Regions from separate parts of the Homo sapiens genome. Here region 2 is linked to region 1. Evidence: fine-mapped expression QTL. A gene starts in region 1. The other region holds a variant in brackets. All regions are shown on one strand. Distances are from middle to middle.

Region 1 (2,910 bases):
ATCGCCTGAGGTCAGGAGTTCGAGACCAGCTTGGCCAACTTAGTGAAACCCCGTCTCTACTAAAAATACAAAAATTAGCTGGGCGTGGTGGTGGGCGCCTGTAATCCCAGCTACTCGGGAGGCTGAGACACAAGAATCACTTGAACCCGGGCGACGGAGGTTGCAGTGGGCCGAGATAGCGCCATTGCACTCCAGCCTGGGCAACAAGAGCAAAACTCTGTCAAAGAAAAAAAAAAAGTAAAAGAAAATAAAATCAGATGCAGAGGCCAGGCAGGAGGAGCTCAGGCCGCACTGCTGTCTTTGCTAGCACAGATTCTTTTTGCTGAACTCTGTACTACTCCTTGTCAGTCCCTAATGTTAATTTAGGTTAAAAGAAATGTAATGCTCGCATCAGTAAAAGCAAGGTCAGACTTTCACCTGAACAGTTTTATTTTTGTTTTGTTCCGTTTTTACTCCGAGGTCAGAATGTCATCAGGCACAATAAAGATAGCTTCTTATCTTCATGGGATTGTGCCCAGAAAGACCAAGCACAGTCTAAACATTACGCGATAAGAAAAAACAAAAAATAGATCAAGTGACCTTGGACAAGTCATCTTACCTCTCGATGGTTTTGTTTTATGAAAGAAGGTGTGTGTGTGTGTGTGTCGATGGGTGTGTGTGTGTGTGTGTCGATGGGTCTGTGTGTGTGTGTGTGTGTGTCGATGGGTGTGTGTGTGTGTGTGTGTGCGTGCGGGGGTTGAGAAGGTTGCTGTTAAGGTTCCCTAGGGCTACCTGCAGCTTTAATATGCGTAGTTAGAATGTCAGGCAGGTTGTGGAGAGTGGGGGGCTGGAGACCCCCGACTTCTCTGAGTGCCAAGCCACACATCAGACACCTTGGAAATAACCCTTCCACGAAGTCCCTACACAGATCCCACCAGGCTGGGCACGGAAGAACAGAAACTGCGAAAAGAAAGGGACTGGATGAGTCCTGGGGAATCACAGCGCCTCCACTTGCACAGGACAAGTGACAGGCAGGTAAATAGGTAGCAGACAGGCAGAGACTCCGAGTCCCCCAGGTGCACCCCTCTCCTGGAAGAGCCCCCGAAAGTACAGGCCCAATCTCCCACCCCACCAAGCCCTCCCCATCGCCTTCCCCGACACCTAAAAGCCCCGGTCCTGCGTAATATTGCGGATCCCTCCCAGCCTCCCGTCCGCTCCTCCTCCCGCGGGGCTCCGCTCAGGGCCGGTCCCCCGCCCCCACGCCGCAGCCCGGGCCAGCGGGGCCCGCCGCGGTGGCGTTCGCGGATGCTGCCGCATTGGCCGCTGCGGCACGGACGGCGCAGCCTCGGGCGCGGCCCGGCACAGGCGCCGGCGGTCCCCGCCAGCTAGCAGCCCGGCGAGGCGCTGGCCCACCCATGGTCCTCGGGCGGCGGCCCCTGCGCCCAGCCCTGCGCGTAGCCTCCGTCTCTCGCCCGGGGCCGCCGAGCCCCCGACACGGGCGAGATGCTGAACGGCGCAGGCCTGGACAAAGCTCTTAAGATGTCCCTGCCGCGGAGGTCGAGGATCCGCTCGTCCGTGGGTGAGCTGGGAGGGGCGCGGCGAGGGAGGGTGGGCCCGGGGCGGGGGCGGCGCGGGGCGCGCCTGCGGTTATGCGACACTGCCCCGCCCGCGCCCCGCTCCCCTCCCTGGGCTCCCTGGGCTCTCTGGGCTGCAGGATCCGCCGACGCGGCGCGCTGGCCGCACGGGGGCTGGGCGTCGCTGCACCTGCGGGGCCAAAAGGCTCCAGGCCGGGGCGAGGTGAGCGGCGGGCGTCAGAGACCCCCGGCTCGTCCCTGTACAGATGTGTGTGTGTGTGTGCGGCCTCCCTGTGCGCGTGCCCGTGCGCCCCTACGCGCGGATGCGGCTCAGGGATGCGACCTAGGCGGCAGTCACCGCGATGGTGGGCACGGTTTGGCGGCGCAGAGAAGATGCAGCCTTCCCTGCCGGCGGCCGGCACCGCTGTGCTGCAGAGCTCAAAAGCAGAGGGGGAAAAAGGCATCCGAAGGGTCCCTCGAGTGATTCTCACCACTTGGAGCCCCGGGTCCTCGCGCGCTCACAGCGGCGACGTACTGGCTCATAACCATCCGTGCATACAACCATCTGGAGACGAACACACACACGCACACGCGCGCGCACACACACACACAGGTACACACACACGTACACACGCACGCGTACACATACCCTGCCTGCAGGCGCCTGGGTGTTGGAACTCGAAACCTAAAGCCAAACACGCATGTACCATACCCGACCACTCACACTGTTAGAGGCCCGCGTTCTATGATTATAGAACACATTTAGAAACTATGATGTCGTGGAGCTGGATGTTATGTGGCTATGACACTTGATAGGGTTACCTAGACCATTAGTTAATGCAGACGTAAAGAGGAGCCCCAAAAATGATTTCTTACCGTTTCAGGACTGCGGCAAGTTTGCAGGTAGATCTTTGACATGAGGAAGGTAGAGGGTGTACAGTTTGGAGCTGGGGTCACTTGTCTTCGTGCTTTTTTATTTGTTTTGAGAAAATAGGCACATAAAAATAAGCGACTTTTGTATTTCTGTAGTTGAGTAACGTGAGAGGGAAGCAAGCTTATCAGGTAATTTAAGCCAATGTTTGTTAAACTTGGGTAAAGTCAGGACACTTTCACATTCATTTTGAGGAGAATCCCAGCCTGAAGGGGTCACGGGGTGCAGGGTCAAGACTAAATAGCAGGGAAGAGCTGTGGCAGAGAGACAGTGGGAGGGCGCAGTCATACAGGTGTGAGAATTTCCCAAGGTGGAGGCAGCCTGAGGAGACCTGGGGACACCCTCTGTACCTTTGCAGGTGGGGCCAAAGGCATTTGCTTATGATTTGGATGTGGGGCTTCAGTACAAGAAAAGAATCAAAGATGC
Region 2 (2,910 bases), 650 kb after region 1:
GAACCACCCTTTGTTTCCTGGCCACCACCCTGACCCCATGCTGCAGCCACTTGGGGCCACCAGAATCTAAGATGAAAACAAGCGAGTGGAGAAAGACATCTTCAGGGTGGAGAGCTCAGTAGTCCTCAGCTTCCCACCGGAAGAGTTTATAAAAGAGTATGTCCCATTCTTTGGGGTGACTGTTCTTTACTCAGAACCACTTCTGTAGGACTGAGGAGCAGCCCCGGGAGTGGTGCAGCAGCTGTGGAGCCAGTGACGACCCTGCCATTGCAGCTGCTGTTCTGCCAGGCCCCCTCAGGATGACTTCAGATGTGGACTAGAAACGTTCCTTGTTAAAGAACTGGAGAATGGAAATTGTCCAAGTTGACCACAGTACATAGCCTTGTTACTGGAGCAGACGAAGCAGTGTTATTTGCTAGATTTTGCTTTGAAACATCCCAAGGAAAGACGTCTCCTCTTGGACTGCAGTAAAAATGCTTCATAAAGGGCAGCTTGTACAGGATTGGGGATGAGAGTGTGTGTGCCACACGGTGCCAGAGGGAGGCAGGAGGCTGGGGCAGCTCCTCCAAAGCTGGGCAACGGAGGTTTCCTTGTCCCTGCTGCTAATCTCTGATTAAGCAACTTGGTGAAAATCCAAAAGCTCTTAGGAGAACAGGAGTGGTGGCATTTGCTCTTCGGTGCTTGAAAGCAGATCATGTGAAAACTCTAAAGCCCTGAGAATCAAAGCACAGCCACCTACCTGGTCAGGAAGTTCAAGTGCACTAGGTGTGGGCCCAAGGCTGGCACAAGCATATCCGCCCCCAAGGGAGCTCCCCTCCAGGCTGATGCTGCCTTCAGGCTCAGACACCCACCTGCTCCTGTACCCAGCTGTCTGAGGGCTCACAATGGTCTGGGAGCTGCTTCACTGTGGCTACCATGTGGTGGGAATTTTTGGTTTGTAGGTTTTGTTTTGCTAGAAATGGAGGTGAGCAAGTAGACAAAAGCCCCCTGTGGAAGATTCCTCTCTGTTCTGTTCTCTTCTGTTCTGTTCACCCTGGCTCAGCTTGTATCACCTTCTCTCCCGCCCACTGTCTCTTCCTCCTGTGGCCTCACTGGTCTGGGCCCTCCTCCCTGCTGCTCAGCCCATGTCCTCAGTCAACTCTCAGGCCACCTCTGCAGACAAGCCCTTGCCTCCCCCGATAACCCCCCTGAGCCTTTGGGATTCTCAGGCAGTGGCCAGAAGGCATGCTCTCTGGAAGAGCCAGGAAGCCAGCCCAGGACCGGGACTCTCAGTTATGGGAACACACAGAGTAAGAAAACAGCCTGAGTGTCTTCTTTTAAAGTCTCCTCCTCTTCTCCATCCCACGAGGACTCTTCTGTCTTGTTACTGTATGTCTTGATACTCTAGAAATTTCCTTTTTAAGCCAGATGCCTCAGGAAATTAACAGGCAGTCCAGGAACTGATTCATGGGCACCCTTTTCGACTTCTTTTCTCCTTTTAAAGAGTATGACAGTGAACTCACAGCTCCCCTGATAAGTTGTACGCATGCATGGATGGAATTCAAGATT[G/A]TCAGGTTTTTTTATTGTGTTGTCTTTTGGCCAGAATGTCTAATTGAGCTGTGGGACTTTTCCAGACCCCTGACACAGAAGGGTTAGCCAATGGAGAGCAGGCCTTATAAATGTCTTTCTGTGGGAAGGGCCAGTTGGAAGAAAAGCCCCACTCTGGGCTTGTGAACACTAAAGCTGGTTCTCAGCTCTAGAGTGTGGACCCTGGGTTTGCTTCCCAGCTCTGCCACTCACGAGGTCTGTGACCTTGGGCAGGTCACAAAAATCTCTGTGCCTCAGTTTTCTCATCTGTGAAGTGGGAGGAGTATAATCCCCTATCTCATAGGGTTTCTGGGAGGATTAAATGAGCTTTATTTTATAGCACAGTGTCTTAGACACATGGCATTTAATGAGTCTTGGCTATTATTTATTTTATTAATAGTATATGAACTGATTGTGTAAGAATAGTCTTTGTATGGCCACAGGTCCAATCAATCACTAAATTCCTTTTGAGTTTATTGTGTAACCTTTTTCTTTACATGGAAACAACCCTACTTTGATTACTTATTACCAGTCCAGATCAGTCTGATTTAAAAACAGGGCTGGGTGTGGTGGCTCAGGCCTGTAATCCCAGCACTTTGGGAGGCCAAGGTGGACAGATTGCTTGAGGTCAGGAGTTTGAGACCAGCCTGGCCAACATGGTGAAACCCCGTCTCTACTAAAAATACAAAAAAAAATAGCTGGGCGTGGTGGTGCATGCCTGTAGCCCTAGCTACTCAAGAGGCTGAAGCAGGAGAATTGCTTGAACCCTGGAGGCAGAAGTTGCAGTGAGCTGGGATCGCGCCACTGCACTCCAGCCTAGGCGGCAGAGCAAGACTCTGTCTCAAATAAATAAACAGGAAGGCTCCAGGTATCACGTGCATTTTGCCAGCTTGCACTATTAGTGTTGTGTGTGTGTTTCCCTGGCATGTTTACAGCTTCATAAATTAGCTGGCTGCCCTACAGCATCAGGCAGACAGGAGTGTTTTTTCTTAATTGGCAGTGGGAAAGTGGAGTCGGGGACCAGTGACCCACTGTGTGTGATTCCCACACTGAGCTCAGCCGCAGCCCCCTAGAAATAGGAAACCTACCCTCAGAGGCTTTCCCTTCCCAGCATCAGCAGCTAGAACCATGGGACCCCAGTTAGCCTGCACACGGCCGCCACGGCCCCTCTATGGCCACAGGTTTCTTCATCTCAAGCCTCCACCTATCCAAGGCTAAGGAGGCCAGATGTCGCACTCACCCGCACGCTGCCAAAAAAAAGCAGCTTATTTTAAACCTAGTGTGCTCCCCCAATTCTCCTGTTAACCAGTTTCTCCTGTGTGCTTCACTTTCAGATGGGTATGC

Evidence for each region. PIP is the estimated chance that this variant, and not a neighbour inherited with it, causes the effect.
Region 2: its variant is fine-mapped to the expression of ATP8A2 in cerebellum (GTEx, PIP above 0.99). The same link has a PIP of 0.9 or more in cerebellar hemisphere.

What each region holds. Positions count from the first base shown.
Region 1 is chr13:25,370,731-25,373,640 of GRCh38, forward strand. ATP8A2 (ATPase phospholipid transporting 8A2) reads left to right here and starts at 1,244. Exons shown (of 37, transcript NM_016529.6): 1 at 1,244-1,558. The coding sequence starts at 1,483.
Region 2 is chr13:26,016,988-26,019,897 of GRCh38, forward strand. It overlaps ATP8A2 (ATPase phospholipid transporting 8A2), which reads left to right. Exons shown (of 37, transcript NM_016529.6): 37 at 2,901-2,910. Among named protein-coding and RNA genes, the nearest start is that of SHISA2, 34 kb to the right of the region's middle. The variant G/A (reference allele first, on the strand shown) is at 1,549.